7 separate regions of the Homo sapiens genome follow, and regions 1, 2, 4, 5, 6 and 7 are each linked to region 3. Evidence: fine-mapped expression QTL. A gene starts in region 3. Each other region holds a variant in brackets. All regions are shown on one strand. Distances are from middle to middle. Region 1 overlaps MUC4 (mucin 4, cell surface associated). Region 2 has its middle 9.9 kb from the start of MIR570HG. Region 3 holds the start of MUC20 (mucin 20, cell surface associated). Region 4 overlaps NRROS (negative regulator of reactive oxygen species). Region 5 overlaps LOC124909478 (a long non-coding RNA gene). Region 6 has its middle 36 kb from the start of TFRC. Region 7 overlaps MUC4 (mucin 4, cell surface associated).

Region 1 (4,078 bases), 42 kb before region 3:
AACTGTGTTTTCTCTCAAAGAGCTTTCATGCGGGTAGAAAGACAAGCGTCAAGAGGCAAACAATGGCGCCTTCTCCATGACTCAGTCCAGAGGCCCCAATGGGAAAGAAATAATAGTTTCCAAAATGTGATAGGTTGAAGGACATTTTAGCCTTAGAAACCAGCCACGTGAACTGTGAAGTGTAAATCCAGTTCTATTTGTTCTGTGGCAACCACGTTTGGTCGTCAGAAGCAGACGCTAAGTCAAGCGAGGGGCTTTGGGGGAGGAATTGTTGCCCATCTGACTTGGGTCCAAAGAGGTGAGAAGTGGCAGGAGGGGGTGCATTTGTGAGTTTTGGTTGACCCTAAAGCTGAGACAGGGCCTGCAGCCCCAGCCCTGGATAAGCCCTTTCCCCCCCATCCCCGACCTCAGGCCTCCAAGGGCTGCAGTTCTACAGGCTACACCGGGAAGAAAGGCCCAACTACCGTCTCGAGTGCCTGCAGTGGCTGAAGAGCCAGCCTCGGTGGCCCAGCTGGGGCTGGAACCAGGTCTCCTGCCCTTGTTCCTGGCAGCAGGGACGACGGGACTTACGATTCCAACCCGTCAGCATAGGTGACACCTCCTTCCCGCCCCCCACAAGCCCACCCACCACCCTCTCTGCTCACGCCCTCAGCCTCTCCCCAGAAACAGCCCCTGCTTGTTCCCACCCCGCCCCTGGCAGCCCCAGCCTGGGCCTGAGTGGGACTGGACTTGTTTCAGGTCGCTGGGGCCTCGGCAGTAGGCAGCTGTGCAGCTTCACCTCTTGGCGAGGAGGCGTGTGCTGCAGCTACGGGCCCTGGGGAGAGTTTCGTGAAGGCTGGCACGTGCAGCGTCCTTGGCAGTTGGGTGCGTGAGTCCGTGATCTCAACCCCACCTTCCCGGCCAAGTAGGGGACCCTCAGCATGAAGCCTCTCGTCCTCATTCCTTCCCAGACCCTTCCCCTCTCTGGGCCTCCACTTCCTGATCGGGTAACGTTAGGAAGCTTCCAACATCCCCACCAGCGGACATTCGGGGATGTATGAGCTGAGAGCCTCTTTCCTCATCTCTATACCTGGCTCCACATCCCCAGGCCAGAGTGGGGCCATTTCTCCAGGCAAGAAGAGAGCGCCTAGGCTGACCCCGTCCCTGTAGACCCAGATGAGCAGGATGTTTGGGGGAAGACTGAGAGTCAGCTCCCACAGAGACGCTCCAAGGGAGCTGGAGAGCGCAGGGGTGTGGGGTCACGTGGTCTGTGTCCTCCCGTTCTCTCCCCCGTCCCATGGCAGTTTCCACAGTTCCCAGACCGTCAGCCGTGCCCTCCCCACTCCCAGCACGTTGAGAGCAGCAGTACTTGGCTCTCCACCCTCAAGACAGGAAATTTGCTTAGCTCCTACCATGCGCCCTGCTGCACAGTGGCCCCAATGCCTGCAAAAGAGACAGCACCCTATTCACTGCCCAAGGTCATGAGAAGGGCCATGCTGGATTCCAAAGCCATGCTCTTGCCACCAACACCGCCCTGCCCTACCAAGCTCTCCACCAACACCGCCCTGCCCTGCCAAGCTCTCCACCAACACCGCCCTGCCCTGCCAAGCTCTCCACCAACACCGCCCTGCCCTGCCAAGCTCTCAACCAACACCACCCTGCCCTGCCAAGCTTCTCCAGGTCCTCAACCTCCCCGACTCACTGCTGTTCTCCGCAGCCCAGGAACTGGAGCCACAGAGCTGGTGCTGCCGCTGGAATGACAAGCCCTACCTCTGTGCCCTGTACCAGCAGAGGCGGCCCCACGTGGGCTGTGCTACATACAGGCCCCCACAGCCCGGTGAGCGACAGGGCCCAGGCCCAGGAAGAGCCTCTGGGGAGGGGGAGCTTCTGGGCTTCCGGGAGGTGGCATCTGGATAAGGAGTAGGGGCAGAGCTGTGGCCACAAGGGAAGATGGAGATGACGCCAGTGATGGGTGGATGGTCAGTGGAGGGGCTTTGTACCTGAGTTGGGGAAGGAGTGAGAATAGCGGGGCACGAAAATGCAAGGAGGCTTGAGGGGAGGATTCTGTGCTCTGTGAACATCTCCCCAGCTGAGTCCGCCCGGACAAGTGCCCCAGTCGACTGCAGTGAGGAACCTCACCCTGAGTCCTCCTGGACAAGTGCCGCACCTGACTGCAGTGAGGAACCTCAGCCCTACACATGATTTGTCATGCTGAGGCAGCATCTCTTTTTTCCTTCCAGCCTGGATGTTCGGGGACCCCCACATCACCACCTTGGATGGTGTCAGTTACACCTTCAATGGGCTGGGGGACTTCCTGCTGGTCGGGGCCCAAGACGGGAACTCCTCCTTCCTGCTTCAGGGCCGCACCGCCCAGACTGGCTCAGCCCAGGCCACCAACTTCATCGCCTTTGCGGCTCAGTACCGCTCCAGCAGCCTGGGCCCC[G/A]TCACGGTGAGTGAGGGGTGCCGGGAACCTCCCTGCATTCCACCCACAGGGACCTTCAGCCACATACTGAGGCCGAGGAGAAGGAAGAGAGCGAAGGAGGGGAAGCCGGGCAGGAGGGAGGGAGGACACAGCCCATCCACGCAGCTGTCCCGGAGTAAATCCTGGGGATGGTGGATTAGGGCTCTGGCCCCACGGTTTCCCAGCTGCTTGGCTTCGAAGAAACTACTTAATTTGGTTTTCTCCTAGTAAGAATGGGGATGACATTACCTGCCTCACGGGCTGTTGTAAGAGCTAAAGGGCATAATCCGAAAACCATGCCTGGCCCTGCCGAGCACACGGTAGACGGCGGCTGGCATCACCTCAGGCCGCGGCCTCCAGCGCCTTCCTCCCGGCCCAGGGCGCAGCTTCCAGCCCCAGGGGCTCTCCCAGCTGCTTTCCTGGGCGTCGGCTCCACCTGCGGGTCGGGCTCAGGCCCCCTCCCATCTCCTTCCAGGTCCAATGGCTCCTTGAGCCTCACGACGCAATCCGTGTCCTGCTGGATAACCAGACTGTGACATTTCAGCCTGACCATGAAGACGGCGGAGGTAGGTTGGGGAGCGCCGGCCGCCCCCTCCCCGCACCGGGAGCAGCGAGGTGGGCGGGAAGCCGCGTTGCGGTGCAGGGCCGGGCGCGTGGCGGTGCAGGGCCGGGTGCGTTGTGGTGCAGGGCCGGGCGCGTGGCGGTGCCGCGCCGAGTGCTTTGCGGTGCAGGGCCGGGTGCGTTGTGGTGCAGGGCCCGGTGCGTGGCGGTGCAGGGCCCGGTGCGTGGCGGTGCAGGGCCGGGTGCGTGGCGGTGCAGGGCCGGGTGCGTGGCGGTGCAGGGCCCGGTGCGTTGCGGTGCAGGGCCGGGTGCGTTGCGGTGCAGGGCCCGGTGCGTGGCGGTGCAGGGCCGAGTGCGTTGTGGTGCCGGGCCCGGTGCGTGGCGGTGCAGGGCCCGGTGCGTGGCGGTGCAGGGCCAAGAGAGCGCAGCCTCTACCCCCGAGCGGGGCGTGCAGCTCGCCGGCCTCTTCTCCGCCTCCAGTGCAGACCCCTCCCGGCTTCAGCCCCAGGGGCGGGGTGGGGGTGGTGCGGGCCCGGCAGGGCGCGGGTTTGGTGCGGGCCGTGGTGCCGACCTGGCTTCCTCTCCGCTGCCTCCCGATGCTCCAGGCCAGGAGACGTTCAACGCCACCGGAGTCCTCCTGAGCCGCAACGGCTCTGAGGTCTCGGCCAGCTTCGACGGCTGGGCCACCGTCTCGGTGATCGCGCTCTCCAACATCCTCCACGCCTCCGCCAGCCTCCCGCCCGAGTACCAGAACCGCACGGAGGGGCTCCTGGGTGAGGGCGGCTCGGACCTGCCTCTGAGGCTCCGCGGAGCCAGCCGGAGCTCGGACCCCCACGCCGGCGGCCCGGGCAGCCCTGCTCGGCCTCCCTTTCTCCGCCTCCTTGGAGCAGAACCCTTGGGGCACAGAGCGGGCCGGGAGCCGAGGGGCTTCTCCAGCCTCCCCCGAGGCTCCCTTCCTGTCCTCCGCCCGCTCTAAGGGAGCATCAGGGGGGGCTGCGGGGAGGCGGGGGGCACAGCCATCCTTTCTCCCTTTCCTCTTGCCTCCCACATCCTCCCGCCCTCCTCCACCGCTGCCCG
Region 2 (4,078 bases), 43 kb after region 3:
ATCACGAGAAACGTGCTAGGAGTGGACCTGAAGTTTACTTAGGTATGCTGGGAACTGGGCATCAGCTTTTGCTTCCTGTGGGACACACAGGCACCACCTCCGTGATCCCTCCTCCTCCTTGCTTCTCCCTCTAACTGTGCTTTGCTCCACTGACCCTAATTGTCTCTTCCTCTACCAATGCACCTTCGTGGTTCAATTTGGACATTTCATCTGATTTTCCTTAGACTCATACATAATCGTAACACTGTAATGCACATCAACCTAATGGTTTTTCAGGAAGAACAAATGAAAAAAATTGCATCTCAGAATCTAGTATTACATTCTTTCATGTCCTTTAGCAGCGACGTTTTCATATCATCTTTTCGTATTTCTGGTTACATTATTTCAAGGCATTTTAAATTTTTTGTTTGAAATGCGAATGAGATATTTACTGATGTCTGAGCAGATTACTGCTGGCACATTGCAAAGCTACTGATTTTTACATACAAATCTCTTATACACATACCTTACTACATTCTTGTTTTGTTTCTGTTAGTTTTTCCGTTTATTCTCTGGAAATTTTTTGGAAATTATATCTGTAAATAATGGCAACTGTATCTATTCCTTTTCAATATTTACTGCCAAGACCAGCTGGGTCATGGAAACCCTAACCCAGTGGCACTAGAGGAAGTAAAGACACACACACAGAAATATAGAGTGTGGAGTGGGAAATCAGGGGTCTCACAGCCTTCAGAGCCAAAAGCCTCAAACAGAGATTTACCCACGTATTTATTGACAGCAAGCCAGTGATAAGACTTACTGAAAGTATTCCTTACAGGAAATAAAGGGATGGGTCTGGCTAGTTATCTGCAGCAGGAGCATGTCCTTAAGGCACAGAGCGCTCATGCTATTGTTTGTGGTTTAAGAAGGTCTTAAGAGGTTTTCCACTCTGGGTGGGCCAGGTGTTCCTTGCCCTCATTACGGTAAACCCATAACCTTCCTGCGTGGTCGTCCTGGCCATCACGAGCACGTCACATGCTGCAGAGATTTTGTTTATGGCCAGTTTTGGGGCCAGTTTATGGCCACATTTGGGGGCCTGTTTCTATCAATTTACCTCATTTCTTTTTTTGATTGTTACTATTAATAGCCAGAGTCAGCAGAAAAATCCCTTCCCCCAACGAAATGCATTTCCGCAAGCATAGGAAGCTCTGTTTGTTCAGTGCTGACTCCGGCACCTCACGGAGCCTGGGATACAGCAGGCACCAAGACACACCTTGTTTGGTGGGAACACTTCTAGTATTCTCACTTCAAACTATCTCAGATTTGCCATTTCTATATCCTAAGGCATGTTCCCATTCTCTAACGCAAGGGTTCCTTCTTTCCCAGCTGGCCTCCAACCCTACAAAAGCACTGCAGGGCATCACTCAGCCTTCTGTGCCTTAGTCACGCTGTTCTTCTCACCGTTCCACAAAACCTCCCTCAAGCCCAGCCTCACCTGAAGACCGAAGGGCACGGGCCTCTGAAAATTGTCAGCAGGGAACCTGTTCTCTTGTGTCTAACACCAAATGCCTTTCAGAATAGGACTAAAGCAGTGGACTTCTTTCTAGAAAATACGCAGAAATTCTTGCAAATAGCAGACAAGAGATCTCATTCATGGACAAGAATCCTTGTTATTAGAGGAATTGAGTTTCTTAGACTGACTATATATCAGGTTCTCCACGGCCCCATGGCTAATGGCTGCCATACTGGACGGCAAACACTCAACATTTCCATCATCACAGACGGTCCTACTGGACCGACTCCCAGCAGCACAGGCCGCACAGATCACTGTCCACCTGCCGCCCACTCTCCCTCTCTGCTGAGTATATTTAGGGGCAGCAACAGGTCTAGCTTAAAGACGTTTCCGAGCTGCTGGAAGCCAGGCATGATGACATGATCAATATCTGGGCCTGAGATGTAAGCACCAGTGTTGTGTTGAACTCCAGGAAACCTCTAAGAGAAAGCTGCCCTGCTGGGGACGGAGCTTCTCCGGCAGTCCTGCGGCTCCCTCTCCTCCACACTGTGACTCATCCATGACAGCCAGCGACGGTCAGGGCACGGAGGTCATGCCCAAGCACACACGAGTGAACCACAGAAGGCTGTCCTGGATGCTAAGCAGTCACTAATTCTGCCCTGGCCTGCTGACCTTCTATGTGGAGAAGAAGTGCACTTCTGGTCTCTTTCATATTCTTGATACAGTGAGGAGTATGTCCTACTGCTGTTTACCTCCACATACTGGTGCAGCCTCGTATGTTTATTGCAGCACTAGTCACAATAGCAAAGTCATGGAATCAACCTAAGTGCCCATCAAC[G/A]GACGACCGGATAAAGAAAATGTGGTACATATATACCATGAAATACTACTTGGCCATAAAAAAAGAATGCAATCATGTCTTCTGCAGCCAGACGGATGGAATGGGAGGTCACTATCCTAAGTGAGTCAGAAGGTCAAGTGTCACACATTCTCCCTTGGAAGTGGGAGCTGAACGGTGAGTACACATGGACACACGGAGTGGACTAACAGACTGTGGGCTCCAAAAAGCGGGAGGGGTGGGGATGAGCAATTACCTGCTGAGTACAACACACACGACTTGGGTGACAGGTACATGAAAAGCCCAGACTCCACCACCTCCCAGTACATCCACACAAAGCTGCACCTGCATCCCCCTAGATCTGTTTTTAAAAAAACAAAACCAGTGCAGGGCCAGGTATGCAGCCAGCCTGCTCACTCCAGAGCGAGTCCAGGCTCTTACCTTCTGCATGCTGAGTCGCAGTTCCGATGTTCTTATGCTTCTTCCATCAGCAAATCTCAATTTGTCAAGATTCGTGACAGATTCTTCCCCAGCATTTGGTTTAATTGGAGGGACTTTATCTCCTAAAACAACAACAAAAAGAGCTAGAATTTAACTTTTGAAAACCGTTTTAAAAAAACAAATGGATTTAGTACTACACACAAAAATGTAGCATAGCCGCTCAAGGAGCCTGGAAACGGTGTAAGTCTCCTGAGCTAACACACTGCCAACCCACCCTACATCTGAGGCCATCTGTTGAGTTGGGGCCAATTTTAAAGAACAGACATAAAAGGCAAAACTGTTGGCACACAGTAGATATCCATTAAGTGATCTTAGAGTGAATAAACTAGAAATCATCTCTAAAATTAAAAAATTAAAATGTAGGCCAGGTGCAGTGGCTCACGCCTGTAATCCCAGCACTTTAGGAGGCTGAGGTAGGTGAAGCACTTGAGGTCAGGAGTTCAAGAGCAGCCTGGCCAACGTGGCAAAACCTCATTTCTACTAAAAACACAAAAATTATCTGGCATGAGAACTGCTTTAACCCGAAAGGTGGAGGTTGCAGTGAGCCGAGATCGCGCCACTGCACTCCAGCCTGGGCAACAGAGCGAGACCCTGTCTTACAAAAAAAAAAAATTAAATGTATACAGATTTATATACATTAAGTGTATATAAATGTCACTCCACTAACGGGAAAAAATGACACCTTCCAGATGGTGGTCCCAAGGGGCCGGCCGCCCCACTGTCCTTCACATTAGGGGGAGGAAGGTGGCTGCTGTGTGCTTGCAAGTCACCTGCTGATTTGGACTGTTGTGTGCTCTCACCTATACTTCAAGATTTGCAATTTTTTTTTTTTTTTTTTGAGATGGAATTTTGCTCTGTAGCCCAGGCTGGAGTGCAGTGGCACCATCTCGGCTCACTGCAACCTCCACCTCCTGGTTCAAGCAATCCTCCTGCCTCAGACTCTGGAGTAGATGGGACTACAGGAGTTTGCAACCATACCTGGCTAATTTTTGTATTTTCAGTAGAGATGGGGTTTCACCATGTTGGCCAGGCTGGTCTCGAACTCCTGACCTCAGGTGAGCCACCTGCCTCAGCCTCCCAAAGTGCTGGGATCACATGTGTGAGCTGCTGCGCACGGCCAAGATTTGCAACTCTTGTGTTTCCAAGATGTCTTGAAAAAAGTTTTAAAGGTTTTTTTTTTTTATAAAATTATATGTATTTTTTCTTCAATAGGTAACACATGCAGGAGATAGGAGGTATGAAATGCAGGA
Region 3 (4,078 bases):
CTTCTTGGTCCAGCCTACACAGCTGGAAGCCCAAAGGTGGCGCTCTTGGAGTCTGACCTCCCCTGGCACAGGGTTTGAGATGGTCTTTACCCAGCTCCACTGGCCCAAAAGTAGCCCATAGACCCAAAAGGGGCCTAGCACCTCTCCCCAGGGCATCAGGATGGGGCCCCAGGTCCCCAACTGGTTGTCCTGTGGACCTCAGGGAATGACGACGCAGGAGTCAAGAGCCTCGGTTGCAGCTCCCGCTGTGCCGCCCACGACTGGCTCCGGGGTCAGATGATCTGCTGGTTCAAATCCTGACTCAGCCTCCTACTAGCCAGGCCAGTCTCTAGACCCCTCCCAGCCTCCATGTCCTCACCTGAGAAAACAGGGTCACAATACCTGCCTTGCCAACGTGATGAGGACCAGCGGAGAAGGTGAAAGGGCTTATATTCCAAAGCCCACAAGGTAAGCATCCCTCCCTATGGAGTCCTCTCCCAGGCCACTGGAAAGCACGCATAGTTGATCTGACTATAGTGAGGAGTGCGGGCTGCACCCCCAGGCAGTATAGGCGAGTCCCGGGCACCCACTCTCATCCCTGGTCCAGTGCGGCCCAGCTGCACACACAAATCTCACTTTTGCAGGAACTGTTCGTCTGCCTTCATAATACAGTTTCTTCTCCCCACTTCAAGCCTGAGATCATTTCTTTGAGCCTTCTTGGTCCAGCCCACACAGCTGGAAGCCCAGAGTGGTGCCCTTGGAGCCCGACTTCCCCTGGCACATTTTCTGGCTTATCCAGGAGCCCCGGGGTGTCCTTTCTGCTGTGAAACCTCCTCATGCTCCCCAAGCCCACAGCCTCTCGGGTCCAAGGGGGTCTTCTCGAATACAGCAAATCCCAGCCCAGCCCCTCAGTAGCTCTGGAACACTGCGGCTCTCCTGGTACAATCTTCAAATCTGGTGGAGAGGAAAGCGTGTGGACTTGGGACCCTGAGTTGGAGAATCTGCTCTCTGCCCTGTGACCCTGGCCAAGTCTCTCAGCTCCAAGCCTGCATTTCCGCACCTGTAAGGTGGAGCTAACGGGACACGTGCAGCGCAGACCAGGCCACGGTGAGCACAGGCAGGAGGCCACGGGGTGCAGTGCTCAGGCCTGTGAGGAGTCAGATTCTGGCTCCGAGGAGTTGTTACTGGATGCCCAGAAGCACAGTGGCCTCACCCTTAAAGCAGTGGAGGTGGGGGGTGGTAAAAACAGGGCCGATCTTGCAGGGCCGTTGTGAGGATTAAAAATACAATGTATGATAATGATGCATCAAAGTAGGTTCCTCAGTCCTATCAAATGTGCCACTCTGGTGGGGGACGCTGATGATGGGGGAGGCTGTGAGTGGTGGGGATGGGAACTCCAGACTCTCCACTGCAGCTTTTTTTTTTTTGAAACATAGTTTCACTTTTGTTGCCCAGGCCAGAGCGCAAGGGTGCGATCTCAGCTCACTGCAAACTCCACCTCCCAGGTTCAAGCAATTCTCCTGCCTCAGCCTCCCGAGTAGCTGGGATTACAGGCACCTGCTACCACCCCCGGCTAATTTTGTATTTTTAGTAGAGACGGGGTTTCTCCATGTTGGTCAGGCTGGTCTCGAACTCCTGACCTCAGGTGATCCACCCACCTCAGCCTCCCAAAATGCTGGGATTACAGGTGTGAGCCACCACGCCCGGCCTCTCCACTCGAGGTTTAGAGGGAGCATAGAACTAAAAAAAAAATAAATCCTTTTCTATTTTTTAATGTATGTGATGAGTTTGGCACAACTCCTATTAGCGACAGGTCAGGGTTCATTCCCGTCTTTCACAAAAGCCCTGCCTGTCAGCATCCACCCTTCCCAAGCAGTTTGTGGCAGTTGGACTTTTCACACGAAATCTGTATTTTGAAGGAAATCCATGCTAGGTAATAAACTGGGAGGAGTCAGAATCTTGTTAAGCCACATTCTTCAGCTTTCTGCACAATGATCACCAGCTGGCACCTCCCTGCACCCCCGCTCCGTGCCCCACTTACTGTCCCACGTTCATAAAGACAAACTCTCAGCCATCCCTTACGATGGCAGCGTCATGGTTGATTAGCGTGTACTGCAGCGCCAGGCACGCTTACACTCACACACATCGTCATGGTTGATTAGTGTGTACTGCAGCGCCATGCACGCTTACACTCACACTGTCATTTGCACACTCTTTATCAACAATAATAGCACTTCACAAGTAGCACTGTGGTTCATTATAATCAACCCGAGAGAGCCTGCCCTTGCCCATGAAGGGTGGCTCATACTGAAATTCACTCCCAGAGCCCTACTAGGGGAGAGGCCCACCAGGCCCTTCTAGGCCTCCTTACCTGCAGAGCTCCCAGAGACCCCAACCTCCCAGCAGAAGAAGAAAAGGGGCAGAGCCAGACCCCAGAGACAGCCCATCCTAGCCGGCCACCGCTGCTCCACAGAACTGCTGGCTGTCTCTCGCGGGTACCTTTTCCTGCTTCCTCAAACCAGGGAGGAGGGGCAGCCTCCTGCCCAGGTGTGTGACCAGGTGATCACAAATGTGCAGGCTGAGGGCTGGCAGGTTGAGGCTGTCAGCAAGCTGACCCCCCTGCCTTCCTTGCCCGGTAAACACTCCACTGAAATTTGATTTGAAGATATGGAATCACTAGCTTCTTTTTTTTTTTTTGAGATGGAGTCTTGCTCTGTCACCCAGGCTGGAGTGTACAGTAATGAGATCTCAGCTCAATGAAACCTCTTCCTCCCGGGATCCAACAATTCTCCTGCCTCAGCCTCTGGAGTAGCTGGGATTATAGGCGCGCACCACCACGTCGGGCTAATTTTTGTATTTTTAGTAGAGATGGGGTTTCACCATGTTGGCCAGGCTAGTCTCAAACTCCTGACCTCAGGTGATCTACCTACCTCAGCCTCCCAAAGTGCTGGGAGTACAGGCATGAGCCACTGCACCCAGCCAAGTGCTTTTATTTTCTTAAGCCAATTAATTAGAGCTCTTTTATATATTTTCAGTAGCAAAACACTGTGTACACAACAACACATAAATACACAGATGTATTAGGTATGCTGAAAGAAGTTCATCTTATAGATTCATAAAGAGCTTTTTTCTTACACCTTCAAATTCTTTTTTACTTTTTTTTTTTTTTTTTTTGAGACAGAGTCTCACTCTGTTGCCCAGGCTGGAGTGCAATGGCTTGATCTCGACTCACTGCAAACTCTGCCTCCTGGCTTCAAGTGATTCTCCTGCCTCAGCTTCCTGAGTAGCTGGGATTATAGGCACCTGCCACCACATCTGGCTAATTTTTTTTGTATTTTTAGTAGAGACGGGGTTTCAACATGTTGGCCAAGATGGTTTTGAACTCCTGACCTCAAGAGATCTTTGCGGCTCAGCCTCCCAAATGCTAGGATTACAGACGTGAGCCACCGTGCCCAGCCACACCTTCGAATTCTTGATAACCTGTTTTACTACTCTAAGCGGTTGTCAGCTAAATAGCCTTGAATTTGCATTTTAAGGAAACTGAGGTGAAAATCGAATAGCAAAATTTACATCATAACGTATGGAGAGAAAAAGTCTGGTGTGCTGGAGGGAAATTAAAACAGATTTAATTGCCAATTAAACATAAAATTATAGAAATTATAAAGGCCTTTTAAATATATACACACACACAAAGATCCTATAGCTTTTACTTCAGAAATTTAGCCATGAAAGCTGGGCGCGGTGACTCACGCCTGTAATCCCAGCACCTTGGGAGGCCGAGGCGGGCAGATCACCTGAGGTCAGGAGTTGGAGACCAGCCTGACGAACATGGAGAAACCCCATCTCTACTAAAAATACAAAAAATTAGCCAGGCATGGTGGTGCATGCCTGTAATCCCAGCTACTCGGGAGGCTGAGGCAAGAGAATCACTTGAACCAGGGAAGAGGAGACTGTGGTGACCCAAGATCACGCCATTGCACTCCAGCCTGGGCAACAAGAGTGAAACTCTGCCTCAAAAAAAAAAAAAGAAAAAAAAAAAAGAGAAAGAAAAGAAAAAAAGAAATTTAGCCATGAAATAAATACAAATTCACCAGTTTAC
Region 4 (4,078 bases), 930 kb before region 3:
TTCCATGTCTTTCTGGATCTTTCGTAAGATATTACCTACCTTTGTCTAAAAAACAAAAATAAGACCATACTGTGCAAACTGTTCAGTAACCTATTTTTCTCCCCCTGTCAATAAAGTATGACGGACTTATTGCCTTGGCAGTACAAATAAATGTGATCATAATCTTTTTAGGAAGCATATGCATTCATCTCATGAATAGCACAGTGGCTGAGAGCAAGAGTTCCAGGGCCAATGCTTCGTGGCTCTGCTTTTGATCAAATGGGTGACCTTTGGATGGTTACGGAACCGAAAGAGACCTCCATTACCCTGCCTGTAAAACCGAAATTATACTCGTCATTTTCGCATAGCGTTTTTTTTCAGGATCAAGTGTGACTGTTGAGGTGAAACACATTTACTGTGCTTAATAAATGTGAGCTATAATTATTAGGATGATCTAATTAATCATCTCCTATTGTTGAGCATTTGGGTTTCTCTAATTTCCAGACGAACGTTAGAAAGGATTTGCCAAGTTCTTTCCACATCCCCCTTCCCTCTTTGGTATTTTGATTGGGATTGCATTATAATTACAAAGTACTCTGGAAGAGAATTTTTATCTTTTTTTTTTTTTTTTGAGACAGAGTCTCACTCTTGTCGTCCAGGCTGGAGTGCAATGGCGCCATCTCTGCTTGCTGCAACCTCTGCCTGCCGGGTTCAAGCGATTCTGCTGCCTTAGCCTCCCACGTAGCTGGGATTACAGACTCACACCACCACACCGGGCTAATTTTGTATTTTTAGTAGAGGCAGAGTTTTGCCATGTTGGCCACCCTGACCTCGGGTGATCCACCTGCCTTGGCCTCCCCAAGTGCTGGGATTACAGGTGTGAGCCACCGCGCCCGGCCAGGTGTGTGTCTTTATGTGAGTGGGTGTTGCGCTCCTCCCTGCGTGTGGACTCACTGGAGAATGTTGTGGTCAGGGGCTTTCTTCACGCTATGGGGTGCTGTTCCACCACAGCTGCTGCAGTCGTGGGTCACACCTCTGCAATTCCCTGTGGCCCCGCTGAAGTGATGTAGAAGGACCATATGGCCATCCCAGAAAAGCTTACCATGTCCACTTTCTTTTTCTTTTTTTTTTTTTTGATACGGAGTCTTGCTCTGTCGCCCAGGCTGGAGTGCAGTGGCGCGATCTCAGCTCACTGCAACCTCGGCCTCCCTGGTTCAAGCGATTCGCCTGCCTCAGCCTCCTGAGTAGCTGAGATCACAGGTGCCCGTCACCATGCCTGGCTAATTTTTGTATTTTTAGTAGAGACGGGCTTTCACCATGTTGGTCAGGCTGGTCTCAAACTCCTGACCTCAGGTGATCTGCCTGCTTCGGCCTCCCAAAGTGCTGAGATTACAGGCGGGAGCCACCGCACCTGGCCAACGTCCACTTTCTAATAAGGTCAAATGGATAATGTGATGAGGGCCAGTGGAGGGCACCCAGACTCTCCAATTCTCAGTCCTCAACTCGGAAGAGCCACAGGAAACCCACTCTTTGGGCTTCCTGGCAGCCAATTCTCTACTCCTGCCCACTGGGCCAGAAAGTGTCAAGCAGAGGGCCTTGCCTGAACTCTGAAAGGCTGTTCATTTATCTCTCCTCTTCCTGTGCCTGGTAACCCCTGAATAACTACTGTGTAGTTAATCCTTTATTGCCTCTGTAAGAGAATGCTGGAGGTCAAACATAGCAGAGATTAATAATAATATGAGTGATAACGGATAAAACGCGTAGCACTGACTACCTACCAGGCACTGTCCTGAGTGCTTTACATGTATTAACCCATTTAATCATCAGTCAACACAGCATGATGTTATTGGTAGATATTATTATTACGTATATATTCTACAGATGGAGAAACTATGACCTAGAGTGACCCCAATGTCACCAGCTAAGGGTGGGGCTGGGTTTAAACCAGGCCAGTCTAGCTTGTAACCTCTATGTCATATTGGAATAGACTCTAGCACAGTGGTTATAGGTTCCTACTAAAAGAGGTTAAAAACCATGACAGCTATGCTTTAAGAATACATACTTGAATGTAAGTGTTAGCCCTGACATCCAATTTGTCTTCCCAACGCCTAGTATATAATATGGCTCAAGAAATGTTTATTAAATATGTGTTTCATTTTTTTTTTCTTTTTTGAGATGGAGTATCACTCTGTCACCCAGGCTGGAGTGCAGTGGCACGATGTCAGCTCACTGCAACCTCTGCCTCCCAGGTTCAAGCAATCTTCCTCAGCCTCCCGAGTAGCTGGGACTACAAGCATGTGCCACCATGCCTGGGTAATTTTTGTATTTTTAGTAGAGACGGGTTTTTACTATGTTGGCCAGGCTGGTCTCGACCTCTTGACCTTGTGATCTGCCCGCCTCGGCCTCCCAAAGTGCTGGGATGACAGG[C/T]GTGAGCCATGCACCTGGCCTAAATATGTGTTTCTTGAGCAGACTTTTGATATCATTGTTATATAGATGAAGGGGAAAATTACTGGAAATTTCTCAGTTTGGACCCAAGTCTATTTTCACATCTAGGCTGAAAGCCCTAGAGGAGGCTTGGGTATCCACGCTCCGGGTCTTCTTAGCCTGAGCGTGGTCCGGGCTGCCGCTCTGCAGAGTGGCATGGCAGCAAGTCCTCCCCGCAGCTGTGTAAGCCTTAGCGGTCAACTCGTCCACAAACTCCGAGGCAGGCTTCTCCAGCTCTCAAGCACCTCACCCGGAGATTCTCATACCATCGGTGCAGCTCAGTCATCCAGTTTTTTGTTTTGTTTTGTTTTTTTCTTTTTTTGAGAGAGTCTCACTCTGTCGCCCAGGATGGAGTGCAGGGGTGTGATCTCGGCTCACTGCAACCTCCGTCTCCCGGGTTCAAGCGATTCTCCTCCTTCAGCTTCCCAAGTAGCTGGAATTACAGGCATGCACCACCACGCCCAGCTAATTTTTGTATTTTTAGTAGAGACGGGGTTTCACCATGTTGGCCAGGCTAGTCTCGAACTCCTGACCTCAGGTGATCCGCCGGACTTGGCCTCCCTAAGTACTGGGATGACAGGCGTGAGCCACCGCGCCTGGCTTTTTTTTTTTTTTTTTTAAAGACAAGGTCTGGCCCCATCACCTAGGTTGGAGTGCAGGGGCATGATCTCAGCTCACTGCAACCTCCACTTCCTGGGCTCAAGCCACCCTCACATCTCAGCCTCCCAAGTAGCTGGGACTATAGGTGTGTGCCACCGCACCTGACTGATTCTTGTATTTTGTAGAGATGTGGTTTCATCATGTTGCCCAGGCTAGTCTCCAACTCCTGGGCTCAAGTGATCTGCCTGCCTCGGCCTCCTAAAGTGCTGGGATTACAGGCCTGAGCCACTGCACCCGGCCTGAATCATCCAGATTTTTAACAAGTTGTTCTTGTTCCGGGAGGATGCCCTAGGCTGGTCTCGGATGCCTCCTATCCTCAGCAGGCGTGAGAACGGCGGGGCAGGGACTGCCTGGCTCTTCCCAGGAAGCATCTTAAAATCCTGTGGTTAAAGGGCAGCTGCACATGCCCCTGTGCTAGGCAGGCACAGAGTGATGCAGGCTCCTTCATTCTCTGCCCTTCCTGATGGACAATCTGTCAGCTTTCCAAATGGACCAAGCCTTGTCAGGACAGGAGCAGCCGACAGATCAGGGTTCAAGGGAAACTCACCAACTTGCAGACTCCTTGGGAGGCTGCTGTGGCTGTTCCGCTTCTGTTCCTCCAGCCCACGGTCAGGAAGTGAAAACCCAGGCAGAGCCAAAGAGGCAGCAACTCCATCTCAAGGGCAGCCCTGTGGACAGAGAGCAGGGAAGAGGTAAGTCAGAGAAGGACATCCCAGAGGGCTGTTTGTATTATCGGCAGAAGGAGCCAGTTCCAATTCTATGTGGTCTTGGAGCTCTGTGGAGCTCCATAGAGGTGCAGCCCACAGGATACTCAGATACCTCCATTTAGCCAAGACTTCCGGCCTTTCACTGAAACTGTTGACAAGAACTCAATTTCATTTTGCCTCTACCACTTGATGGACGGGTGGCTGAACACTAAACTTCAGCGAGTCCAGCACAGAAGGGAGAAGCAAAA
Region 5 (4,078 bases), 310 kb before region 3:
GGATTAGAGGTGCATGCCACCGTGTCTGGCTAATTTTTGTATTTTTTTGTAGAGACAGGGTTTCGCCATGTTGCCAGGCTGGTCTCCAATTCCTGGGCTCAAGCGATCCGCCCATCTTGGCCTTCCAAAGTGCTGAAATTACAGGCATGAGGCACCGTGCCCCGCCTTAAAGGATGATTTTTATTGTATGTAAATTATATATCAATAAAGTCATGAAAAATCAATCAGGGTAATTCACCATATTGACAGAATAAAGGAGAAAATGCATGATCATGCCATAGATGCAGAAATAGCATCTTGTGCAGATTTACACCGTTTCATTATAAAACTAGGGATAATAGGAAGCTTTCTCAAACTAATAAAATGGCACCTAATAAAACTTACAGCTAGCATCCAAAATTTATGATAAAAAACTGAATTGTTCATCTATAAAATCAAGAACAAGGAAACAATGGCCATTTTTACTACATTTTTTGTTTGTTTGTTTGTTTTGTTTTGTTTGAGACTGGTGTCTCCCTCTGTCCCCCAGGCTGGAGTGCAGTGGCACAATCACTGTAACTTCAACCTCCTGGGCTCAAGCAGTCCTCCCACCTCAGCCTTCTGAGTAGTTGGAACTACAGGCACGTGCCATCATGCCTGGCTAATTTTTTAATTTTTTTGTGGAGAGAGACGAGGTCTCGCCATGTTGCCCAGGCTGGTCTCCAGCTCTTGAACTCAAGCGATCCTCCTGCCTCAGCCTCCCAAAGTGCAGGGACTACAAGCATGAGCCACGGCTCCAGCCCCACCACTTTTTAAAAAATTTATCACCTCAATAATTTTTCATTTCTTTGTGTTATAACCATTCCAGTTATAATCTTTTAGTTTTTTTAATGTATAATAAATTATTGTTGACTATAGTCACCCTACTGTGCTATCAAATACTAGATCTTATTCATCTAATTATATTTTTTACCCATTCTCTTCCCCGCTTCCCCCACTGTTCTTCCCAGCCTTTGGTAACTGTGATTCTGCTCTCTATCTCCATGGGTTCAATTGTTTTAATTTTTAGCTCCCACAGATAAGTGACAGCATATGTGAAGTTTGTCTTCTTGTGTCTCACTTATTTCACTCAATATAATGTCCTTCAGTTTCATCCATATTGTTGCAAATGACTGGATCTCATTTTATTTTATTTATTTATTTATTTATTTTTGAGATGGAGTCTCACTCTTGTTGCCCAGGCTGGAGTGCAGTGGCATGATCCCGGCTCACTGCAACCTCTGCCTTCCGGGTTCAAGCAATTCTCCTACCTCAGCCTCCTGAATAGCTTGGGATTACAGGAGCACACCACCATGCCCGGCTAATTTTTGTATTTTTAGTAGAGACGGGGTTTCACCATGTTGGCCAGGCTGGTCTTGAACTCCTGACCTCAGGTGATCCACCTGCCTCAGCCTCCCTAGTGCTGGGATTACAGGCATGAGCCACTGTGCCTGGCCACTTTTTTATGCCCTAATAGTGCTCCATTGTGTATATGCACCACATTTTCGTTATTCATTTGTTGAGGGACACTTAGATTGATTCTAAATCTCAGCTATTGTGAATAGTGCTACAATAAACATGGGCATAGTGATATCTCTTCGATATACTGATTTCTTTTCTTTTTGGTATTTCCTTTCTTTTGGGTATATGCAGATGACTACTGAATCATATGGTAGTTCTATTTTTAGTTTTTTGAGGCAACTCAATACTCTTCTCCATAGAGGTTGTACTAACTTACATTCCCACCAACAGTGTATGAGGGTTCCCCTTTCTCTATGTCTTTGCCAGCATTTGTTATTGCTTGTCTTTTGCACAAAAGACATTTTAACTGGGGCGAGATAATCTCTCACTGTAGTTTTAATTTTAATTCCTCTGATGATCAATGATGTTGAGCACCTTTACATAACCTGTTTGCCATCTGAAGGTCTTCTTCTGAGAAAAGTCTATTCAGATCTTTTGCCCATATTAATATCAGATAATTAGATTTTTCATGTTGAGTTGTTTAAGCTCCTTGTGTATTCTGACTATTAATCCCTTGATAGATGGATCGTTTGCAAATATTTTCTCCCATTCTGTGGGTTTTATGTGCATTTTGTTGATTGTTTTCTGCTGTACAGAAACTTTTTAACTTAATGTGAGTCCATTTGGTCATTTTTGCTTTGTTTGCCTGTGTTTGTGGGGTATTACTCAATAAATCTGTGCCCTATCTGTAACCCCAGCACTTTGGGAGGCCAAGGTGGGCAGATCACTTGAGGCCAGTAGACTGAGACCAGCCTGGCCAACATGGTGAAACCCCATCTCTACTAAAAATACAAAAATTAGCCAGGTGTGGTGGCGGGTGCCTGTAATCCCAACTACTCAGGAGGCTGAGGCAGGAGAATCACTTTAA[C/T]TTGGGAGGTGGAGGTTGCAGTTAGCTGAGATCACACCACTGCACTTCAGCCTGGGTGAGAGAGCAAGACTCTGTCTCAGTAATAATAATAATAATACAGAAATCTGTGCCCAGACCAACGTCCTGGAGAACTTCCCCAGTGTTTTTGTTTTGTTTTGTTTTGTTTTTTAGTAGTCTTCCAGTTTCAGGTCTTAGATTTAACTTAATACATTTTGATTTGATTTTCATATATGGCAAGAGACAGGGGTCTAGTTTCATTCTTCTTTACATGGATATCCAGTTTTCCCAGCACCAGTTATTAAGACTTGCCGTTTCCCCAATGTATGTTCTTGGCACCTTTGTTAAAAATGAGTTCACTGTAGATGTATGGCTTTATTTTTGGGTTCTCTATTCTGTTCCATTAATCTATGTATCTGTTTTATGTGGGTACCATGATGTTTTCTTTACTATAGCTTTGTAATATAATTTAAAGTCAGGTAATGTGATTCCTTTAGTTTTGTTCTTTTTGCTCAGGATGAGTTTGGTTATTCTGTGTCATTTGTGGTTCCATATGAATTTTAGGATTATTTTTTCTATTTCTGTGAAGGATGTCATTGTTATTTTGATAGTGAATCTGTAGATTGCTTTGGGTAATATGGAAATTTTAACAATATTGATTCTTCCAATCCATGAATATGGAATATCTTTCCATTTTGTGTGTGTCCTCTTTGATTTCTTGTATCAATGTTTTACAGTTTTCATTGCAGAAATCTTTCACATCTTTGGTTAAGTTTATTTCTAGGTATTTTATTTTATTTGTAGTTATTGTTAAGTGGGATTAATTTCTTTATTTCTTTTTCAGCTTGCTCTGTTGGCATATAGAAATGCTACTGATTTTTGTATGTTGATTTTGTTGATTGGCATTGATCAACAAAGTTGCAGTTGTTGATCCTGCAACTTTACTGAATTTGTTTATCAGTTCTAACAGTTTTTTGGTGGAATCTTTAGGTTTTTACGAATAAAAGATCATATAATCTGGAAATAAGATAGTTTGACTTCCTTCTTTCCAATTTGCATGTCTTTATTTCTTTGTCTTGTTTGATTGCTCTGGCTAGGACTTCCAGCACTATGTTGAATAGCAGTGGTCAAAGTGGGCATCCTTGTGGTGTTCCAGAGCTTAGAGGAAAGACTTTCAGTTTTTCCTCTTCAGTATGAGACTAGCTGTGGGTCTGTTGTGTATGGCTTTTATTGTGTTGTGGTATGTTCCTCCTATACACAGTTTTTTGAGGGTTTTTATCATGAAGGGATGTTGAACTTTATCAAATACTTTTTCGGCATCAATTAAAATCATCATATGATTTCTGTCCTTCATTCTGTTGATATGATGTATCACATTGATTGATTTGCATATGTGGAACCTACCTTGCATCCCTGGTATCAATCCCACTTGGTCGTGATGAATGATATTATTAATATGTTGCTGAATTAGGTTTGCTAGTATTTTGTTGTGGATTTTTGCATAAATGTTCATCAAAGATATTGGCCTGAAGTTTTTTTTCTTTTGTTCTTTTTTAAAATGTGCCTTTGTCTGGTTTGGTATCAAGGTAATATTAACCTTGTAGGATGAGTTTGGAAGTATCCCCTCCTCCTCTATTTTTTGGAATAGTTTGAACAGGATTGGTATTAGTTATT
Region 6 (4,000 bases), 320 kb before region 3:
TGATTCTCCTGCCTCAGCCTCCTGAGCAACTGGGATTACAAGTGTGGGCCACCACGCCTGGCTAATTTTTGTATTTTTAGTAGAGATGGGGTTTCACCATGTTGGCCAGGCTGATCTTGAACTCCTGACTTCAAGTGATCTGCCCACCTCAGCCTCCCAAAGTGTGTGATTACAGGTGTGAGCCACCACCACGCTCTGCCTCCTTTTTTTTTTTTTTCCCGAGACAGTCTCGCCCCATCGCCTAGGCTGGAGTGTAGTGGTGCCATCGCAGCTCACTGCAACCTCCACCTCCCAAGTTCAAGCAATTCTTGTGCCTCAGCCTCCTGAGAGGCTGGGATTACAGGTGTGCTCCATACCGTGTCTTCAAACTCCCTTGTACCTCAAGCAATGCACATCTCAGTTTTGGCTAGCCACATTTCAGGTGCTCAGTAGCCACATGGTTAGTGGACACCAGCTCTATAGCAAAAGGCGTAATTGTTGAGAGTTTTCTTATTTTGGCCTTCTACCGTGTGGTTACCAAAAAATCCATCACACAATTGAATCTCATTGCTATGAGTGCCAGCCAGGATTCTTAAGTATGGCCACGAAAATTGTGGCCCCTAGAATTGGAAGCCTAATTGCCTCACCTATGCCCCAGCTTTCCCGTGTCCAAATTAGCCACATTCATACCCTTGAGAAGCAAGATGATTATTAAACTGCTGTATTCTACGGGAGAAACTGCCTATGTGAAAGGTCATGGGTTAGGAAGCTGTCCTAAACAAATATTTGTAAAACACCTGGTTATCTGCAAGACAGCTTTGCCTAGAATTCAATATCAGATACCAATGTCTTCCTTGTGGCTGTCAACAGGTTTAGGTGCTGAGTTAAATAAAGCCTTTGCAGTTTGCTGCATTTGCCCTTTAAGCTGCCTCATGCTTAATCCACCCCAAATGGACAGCTTTGTATAATTTTCTTTTCTTTTCTTTTTTTTTTTTTTCTGAAATGGAGTCTCATTCTTGTTGCCCAGGCTGGAGTGCAATGGCGTGATCTCAGCTAACTGCAACCTCTGCCTTCCAGGTTCAAGCGATTCTCCTGCCTCAGCCTCCCCAGTAGCTGAGATTACAGGTGCATGCCACCATGCTCGGCTAATTTTTGTATTTTTAGTAGAGATGGGGTTTCGCCATGTTGGCCAGGCTGGTCTCGAACTCCTGACCTCAGGTGATCCGCCCGCCTTGGCTTCCCAAAGTGCTGGGATTAAAGGCGTGAGCCACCGCACCTGGCCAGCTTTGTATAATTTTTAATGCCTTTTTTGAAAATATTCACATACGGTCAAAGTGCAGAAAAGTCTGTATTAAAAAGTATTTTCCTCTTAGTCTCCAGAGTTGTCATCCCTCTAAATCTCCACAATTACCAATTTTTCTTTTTTTATTTTGAGATGGTCTCGCTCTTGTCACCCAGGCTGGATTGCAGTGGCATGATTTCAGCTTGCTGCAACCTCCGCCTCCTGGATTCCAGCTATCCTACCTAAGCCTCCTGAGAGTAGCTGGGACTACAGACAGGCAACACCATGCCCAGCTAAGCTAATTTTTGTATTTTTTGAGAGATGGGGTTTTGCCTTATTACCCAGGCTGGTCTCAAACTCCTGGACTGAAGTAATACACCTGCCTCAGCCTCCCAAAGTGCTGGGATTACAGGTGTGAGCCACTGGGCCTGGTCATTTACCGATTTCTTATGTACATTTTCAAAGTTGTCTGTGCATAAATGAGAATTCTATACCAGATCTTCCTAAAAGCATATATGGGGGCTCTGGTTCCACAGTCACCACATAAGCCTCCTACAACCTATCCCTCCTGCTGCTTACAGCCAGAAGCTCAGTAAGACGGGGGGAAAACTCTCCCAAACCTGAGATGTAAACAAAGGTAGGCAAACAGTGGAGGGGAGTAAAACTTGGAGAAGTGACCTCAAAAGGGAAAGAATTGGCAGGAACCAAAAGAGGAACAAACAAAAAAACTGGTGAAGTGGCATGCTGAGTCCAGCCATATCAATAATTACATTATTGACATGTTAACATTCTAATCAAGACTGATGATTAAAAAACAATCAAGGCCCATTTATATGCTGCCTATAAGAAACTTTAAAGACAGATGAATTGAAAGGGGAAAAAATACAATATGTACACTAGCATACTATGACTGGAATGGTTATATAAATATAAGATTAAATAGACTTTGAACAGATAGTACCGTAAAGATAGGAATATTTTATAATTGTAAAGAGAGCCATTCAGG[A/G]AGATAGCAGACTTATAAATACGTATGCACCTTAAAATACATGAAAAAGAAATGAAAATTCTGCCATTAAAATAGATTTTAACACCCATTTCTTAGCAGTAAATAGAGAAGCTAGACCAAAAAAATCAGGACAAATTATTTGAACCACTGTATCAGCCACCTCAATCTACTTGACATTTGTAGAACACCACATTCAACAACTGCAAAATATACTTTTTTTAGGTATATGTGGTATATTCAGCAAGATAGACCATATACTGGGTGATACGGTTTGGATTTGTGTCCCTGCCCAAATCTTAGGTCAAATCGTAATCCCCAGTGTTGGAGGAGGGGGCCTGGTGGGAGGTGGTTGGATCACGGGGGCGGAATGCCCCCTTGCTGCTGTCATGGTAGATCCCACGAGATCGGGTAGTTTGAGAGTGCGCAGCGCCTTTGCTGTCTTCCTCCTTCTCCAGCCGTGTGGGATGCGCCTGCTTCCCCTCTGCCTTCTGCCATGATGGCGCAGTCCCTGAGGCCTCCCCAGTCATGCTTCCCGTGTAGCCGGCGGAACCATGAGCCAATTAAACCTCTTTTCTTTATGAATTACCCAGTCTCAGGTAGTTCTTTAAAGCAATGTGAGAATGGACTAATACATTGGGTGGTAAAACAAGTCTCAATTTTTTTTTGTTTTGTTTTTGACTTGGAGTTTTGCTCTTGTTGAAGATTATGTAGCTCGTTTCGGGAAGCTTCTATCTTCTTACGATCTGCAGCATCTATCCTGTAAACAATAGCCTTGACTCGTCGCTGTCACACGGGCTGGAGTGACGTGGCGCGATCTCGGCTCACTGCAGGCTCCGCCTCCCGGGTTCAAGCGATTCTTCTCCCTCAGCCTCCGAGTAGCTGGGATTACAGGCACCCGCTACCACGCCCGGCTAATTTTTTGTATTTTTAGTAGAGATGGGGCTTTCACCGTGTTGCCCAGGCTGGTCTCGAACTCCTGACCTCAGGCGATCCACCCGCCTCGGCCTCCCAAAGTGCTGGGATTACAAGCGTGAGCCACCGCCCGGCCGGTCCTGGATCTTTATTGTGACATGACCTTTAGTTACTTTCCTCGTGTTGAAACCCACTGTGGCCGTCATATCTCCGCTGAATTCACCTGACGTGATGGCAGTGACGAAGGTGGCCTTGCCCGAGTACTGCAGCCCACGAGCATCGGCTCCATCTCCTCCTTCCAGACGAGCGAAGGGGACCGTCCGGCAGGCGGCAGATGAGCGCTAGCATGATGGCGGCTGTGAGCCAGGACGACCCTCCACAGGAGCAGCCTCCACCCGAGCCCACGACGGCTCCTCCAGGCCCGCGCCACACAGGCGGGCACAGGCCGGCGGTAGCGGCCTTAATTTTTTTTTTTTTTTTTAAAGACAAGCTCTTGCTATGTTGCCCAAGCTGGTCTTGAACTCCTGGCCTCAAGTGATCCTCCCACCTCAGCCTCGAGTTGCTGGGATTCTAGGTGTGAGTCACTGCGTCTGGCTCTCTGAACAACTTTATGTCCCCAAATTTGACAACTTAAATATAAGTAGACGAATTTATTGATATATTCAAATTACCAAAATTAACGTAAAATCAGGACATCTGAGTAGACCCATATATACAATTATTATTTTTAAATCTGCATGTCTATTTTACTTCCATCACAAAAATATTACCTATATAAAATTGTGGTCCACTTTCTTCTCCTTGACCTCAAATTTAACACT
Region 7 (4,061 bases), 27 kb before region 3:
GCAAGCACCCAGCCAGGGCCTTGCTGACTGTGGCTGCTAATAAAACAGCAGCAATTTAGTTTCATAAAATTGCTAATAGTTTTCTTAAAATGCCATTGCACTTAAGCATACACAGGGACACCCCCATCGTCTCTGCTCTCCAGCGGGAGGATATGAAGCTGGAGACTGGAGACTGGCCAGGGACAGAGGCAACTACTCCCTGAAATGGTGTCACCCTGTGCAAGCACCTTCCCCAGGCCAGGCCAGGCCTCAACACCCCCCAGCACCTTCCCCAGGCCAGGCCAGGCCTCAACACCCCCCAGCACCTTCCCCAGGCCAGGCCTCAACACCCCCCAGCACCTCCCCGAGGCCAGGCCTCAACACTCCCCAAGCACCTTCCCCAGGCCAGGCCTCAGCACCCCCATCTGAAAATGAGATGGGATTTCTGAGCCCCCTTTCAGTGCTGACAGCCCCCGGTTTTCCTGGAACAGGAATAAGTTGGCAAGCTTGTCAGAGAAACAAAGGAATAACACGTCCTATTTTCTGTATAGGGCAGAGAACAGGGCAGGGGCCGCCCCAAACACAACAGGAACTGCTGTTTTACTTGGGTCTGGGACCAAGCAAGAGCTTCTCCCAGAATCCAGGCTAAGCCCGCTCTCTCCCGGAGCAGGGGGTGAAATCCCTCAGAACTACTGTATGTTGGGGAGTTGGGGTAGGAGGCGCAGGGAGGCAAGCCCTGACTATGCAATTAAGGAAAACCTATAATTTTTATTATACAAGCATCGTATGTTTATTGCAGAAACTTTAGGAAACACAAACTTAACAAAAAGAAAAGAGGAAAAAAACCCTGTAATCCCAATCCCCAGAGAGACAACAGTATTTCCTACATATCCTTCTGAACTTTCTTTTATGCCTAGGAACCTTCAGACATCCATTTTTTACTGAAGGATCAAATCATTCCTAATGTTGGAAAACCTCCTCATTAAACAGTTGTGAACAGGTTGTCTCATATATTCTGTCCACATTCCCATTTGACATATTATGATGGTATGTTTGAATATAGTGTCATATTTTAAAATACATTATAATAATCATTACCATTGTTTGAGTGCTTACTGTGTGTCCGGCACTGTACTGAGTACTGTGGACACATTATCTCATTTAAATCTCACAGCAGCATAAGTGCTATTATGATCATTTCCTTTTAAAGATAAGGAAACTGAAGCTGAAAGAGTGAAGGAATGTTCCCTGAATTACACATCTAGTCACTAGCAGAGTTTCAGTTTCCACCCAAGTCTGGCCACCTTCAAAGCATGTGCTCTTCAGGAAAGCATTTTCCATAGGAACCTTTTTCCACAGGAACCTTTTTCCCTAGGAACCTTTTTCCCTAGGAAACTTTTTCCATAGGAAGCACCATCCCTTGGTAAGGATGTGCAGTAGTTTATTTAACCAGACCCTACTTCTGAAACGTTACTATTATCCACCATGCTGATCTGAACGTCCAGGGGCATATGTATCTGTGCACTTCTCCAATTATTTCTCAGGATAAACACCCGAAAAGGAATTCGTGGCTGAAAAGGTACTGATTTAGTGTTCATCGGTTGCTTTCTGTGTTAATCTGTGTCCTTCCCGACAGTGAACGTGAGCACGCTGAAGGCTTACTTCAGATGCGATGGCTACAAGGGCTACGACCTGGTCTACAGCCCCCAGAGCGGCTTCACCTGCGTGTCCCCGTGCAGTAGGGGCTACTGTGACCATGGAGGCCAGTGCCAGCACCTGCCCAGTGGGCCCCGCTGCAGGTGCATAGGGCTGTGGCCAGGAGGTGGAGGACAGTGCTGGGGAACCCAAGCTGGGCAAGACACTGCAAGGGGTCCAGGAATTAGGATGGCTCGAGAGATCAGAGACCAGGGAAGAGAGGACAGTGGAAAAGGAGAGTTGTGAGTGCCTGCTCTGTGTGGAGAATAAAGGCGCTATATTACAAACTCTGAAACCCAAAAGAGCCATAGGGGGGCTTAGAACTATTTCGAAGATGAGAAAACTGCAGCTTAGAGATGACAAGGAACCTGCCCCAGGACGCAGTAGGTTAAGCAGCAGGGCATGGTTTCCAAAGCCAAACATTTTTTATATTTTTATGTTTTGAGATGGAGTGTCATTTGTCGCCCAGGCTGGAGTGCAGTGGTGCGTTCTCGGCTCACTGCAACGTCCTTCTCCCGCGTTCAAGCGATTCTCCTGCCTCAGCCTC[C/T]CGAGTAGTTGGGACTACAGGCATGCACCACCACGCCCAGCTGATTTTTGCATTTTTAGTAGAGACGGGGTTTCGCCATGTTGGTCAGGCTGGTCTCGAACTCCTGACCTCAGGTGATCCGTCCACCTTGGCCTCCCAAAGTGCTGAGATTACAGGCGTGAGCCACCGCGCCAGGGCCCAAAGTCAAACCCTCCCACCTGATCTGGCTGCTGCTTCCCTGCTGTCTCCTTGTGGGAAAAGAACCTGCAGTCCTGTGTCTAGGCCAGTCCTGCCCCTCAGTCAAGCGAGGCGCCTTTGCCCCTGCCCTCATCAGCAGTCCCCGGGGCTCCGCTGGTTAACAGCGCAGGAAGCCGCGGCCCCACGCAGACCTGGGCTCCGGGCCCTCCGCCAGCTGCAGTTCCAGATCCCGCCGAAGGAGGGGGCGGGCGGAGCGCGGGTGGGGCGGGGCCCGGCTCTCCGGGTGGGCGGGGCGGGGCGGGGCCGGGCTGGGGCGGGGGTGTGACTGCGCATGCCCACCTGTGGCCGGCATCCCTGCCGCCCAGGTGCAGCTGACTGCACGTGCAGCTGAATTCACACCAGGTTTTTGTTTTTGTTTTTTGAGACGGAGTCTTGCTCTGTCCCCCAGGCTGGAGTGCAGTGTTGCAATCTCGGCTCACTGCAACCTCCACCTCCCAGGTTCAAGCGATTCTGCCTCAGCCTCCTGAGTAGCTGGGATTACAGGTGCGCACCACCACGCCTGGCTAATTTTGTATTTTTAGTAGAGATGGGGTTTCACCGTGTTGGCCAGTCTGGTCTCGAACCCCTGACCTCAAGTGATGCGCCCGCCTCAGCCTCTCAATGTGCTGGGATTACAGGCGTGAGCCCCCGCGCCGGCCCAGGCCCATGTTTTTAAAGCCCACACCTGCCTCCTTTGCCCAGTGGTCTCACTTCAGCACGGCCTCAGGGCTGACTCAGTCTCTCCGGAGAGTGGGGCGAGCCCAGCCTCTCCTACAGAACCTCTTCTTCCCCAGCAGAAGAGGAGGGGCTGGGAGGCTGAGCTCCCGCCTCTGACCGCCTGTCTGTCTCTCTTGGTCACCAGCTGTGTGTCCTTCTCCATCTACACGGCCTGGGGCGAGCACTGTGAGCACCTGAGCATGAAACTCGACGCGTTCTTCGGCATCTTCTTTGGGGCCCTGGGCGGCCTCTTGCTGCTGGGGGTCGGGACGTTCGTGGTCCTGCGCTTCTGGGGTTGCTCCGGGGCCAGGTTCTCCTATTTCCTGAACTCAGCTGAGGCCTTGCCTTGAAGGGGCAGCTGTGGCCTAGGCTACCTCAAGACTCACCTCATCCTTACCGCACATTTAAGGCGCCATTGCTTTTGGGAGACTGGAAAAGGGAAGGTGACTGAAGGCTGTCAGGATTCTTCAAGGAGAATGAATACTGGGAATCAAGACAAGACTATACCTTATCCATAGGCGCAGGTGCACAGGGGGAGGCCATAAAGATCAAACATGCATGGATGGGTCCTCACGCAGACACACCCACAGAAGGACACTAGCCTGTGCACGCGCGCGTGCACACACACACACACACACACGAGTTCATAATGTGGTGATGGCCCTAAGTTAAGCAAAATGCTTCTGCACACAAAACTCTCTGGTTTACTTCAAATTAACTCTATTTAAATAAAGTCTCTCTGACTTTTTGTGTCTCCAAAACCAGGAATTCCATTCTTGATTTTCTTCTGGTGGCCGAAGGGCTGGACACAGACTTCTCCCAACCATCAGAGGGCACAGAGTGTGGAGGTTAAGTGCTGGGCAGCAGTGGAGCATTAGGGGCAGCTGGATCCAGTCCTAATCAGCCC

Evidence for each region. PIP is the estimated chance that this variant, and not a neighbour inherited with it, causes the effect.
Region 1: its variant is fine-mapped to the expression of MUC20 in pituitary (GTEx, PIP 0.95).
Region 2: its variant is fine-mapped to the expression of MUC20 in spleen (GTEx, PIP 0.94).
Region 4: its variant is fine-mapped to the expression of MUC20 in putamen (GTEx, PIP 0.96).
Region 5: its variant is fine-mapped to the expression of MUC20 in skeletal muscle (GTEx, PIP 0.92).
Region 6: its variant is fine-mapped to the expression of MUC20 in blood mononuclear cells (TOPMed, PIP 0.92).
Region 7: its variant is fine-mapped to the expression of MUC20 in tibial artery (GTEx, PIP above 0.99). The same link has a PIP of 0.9 or more in spleen and whole blood.

Annotation. Positions count from the first base shown.
Region 1 is chr3:195,761,783-195,765,860 of GRCh38, reverse strand. MUC4 (mucin 4, cell surface associated) reads left to right here. Exons shown (of 25, transcript NM_018406.7): 9 at 412-591; 10 at 739-864; 11 at 1,697-1,816; 12 at 2,220-2,428; 13 at 2,916-3,006; 14 at 3,607-3,774. Among named protein-coding and RNA genes, the nearest start is that of MUC20, 43 kb to the right of the region's middle. RefSeq lists an enhancer at 3,210-3,711. The variant G/A (reference allele first, on the strand shown) is at 2,423.
Region 2 is chr3:195,676,539-195,680,616 of GRCh38, reverse strand. It overlaps the pseudogene SDHAP2. Among named protein-coding and RNA genes, the nearest start is that of MIR570HG, 9.9 kb to the left of the region's middle. The variant G/A (reference allele first, on the strand shown) is at 2,331.
Region 3 is chr3:195,719,356-195,723,433 of GRCh38, reverse strand. It overlaps MUC20 (mucin 20, cell surface associated), which reads right to left and starts at 2,456. Exons shown (of 4, transcript NM_001282506.2): 1 at 2,351-2,456. The coding sequence starts at 2,426.
Region 4 is chr3:196,654,240-196,658,317 of GRCh38, reverse strand. It overlaps NRROS (negative regulator of reactive oxygen species), which reads right to left. Exons shown (of 3, transcript NM_198565.3): 2 at 3,671-3,791. The coding sequence starts at 3,778. Among named protein-coding and RNA genes, the nearest start is that of NRROS, 17 kb to the right of the region's middle. The variant C/T (reference allele first, on the strand shown) is at 2,407.
Region 5 is chr3:196,030,228-196,034,305 of GRCh38, reverse strand. The region is part of intron 1 of LOC124909478 (a long non-coding RNA gene); the gene reads left to right. Among named protein-coding and RNA genes, the nearest start is that of TFRC, 50 kb to the left of the region's middle. The variant C/T (reference allele first, on the strand shown) is at 2,408.
Region 6 is chr3:196,044,222-196,048,221 of GRCh38, reverse strand. It overlaps the pseudogene ARL8BP1. Among named protein-coding and RNA genes, the nearest start is that of TFRC, 36 kb to the left of the region's middle. The variant A/G (reference allele first, on the strand shown) is at 2,268.
Region 7 is chr3:195,746,619-195,750,679 of GRCh38, reverse strand. It overlaps MUC4 (mucin 4, cell surface associated), which reads left to right. Exons shown (of 25, transcript NM_018406.7): 24 at 1,616-1,778; 25 at 3,300-3,909. The coding sequence ends at 3,504. Among named protein-coding and RNA genes, the nearest start is that of MUC20, 28 kb to the right of the region's middle. RefSeq lists a silencer at 2,972-3,138. The variant C/T (reference allele first, on the strand shown) is at 2,222.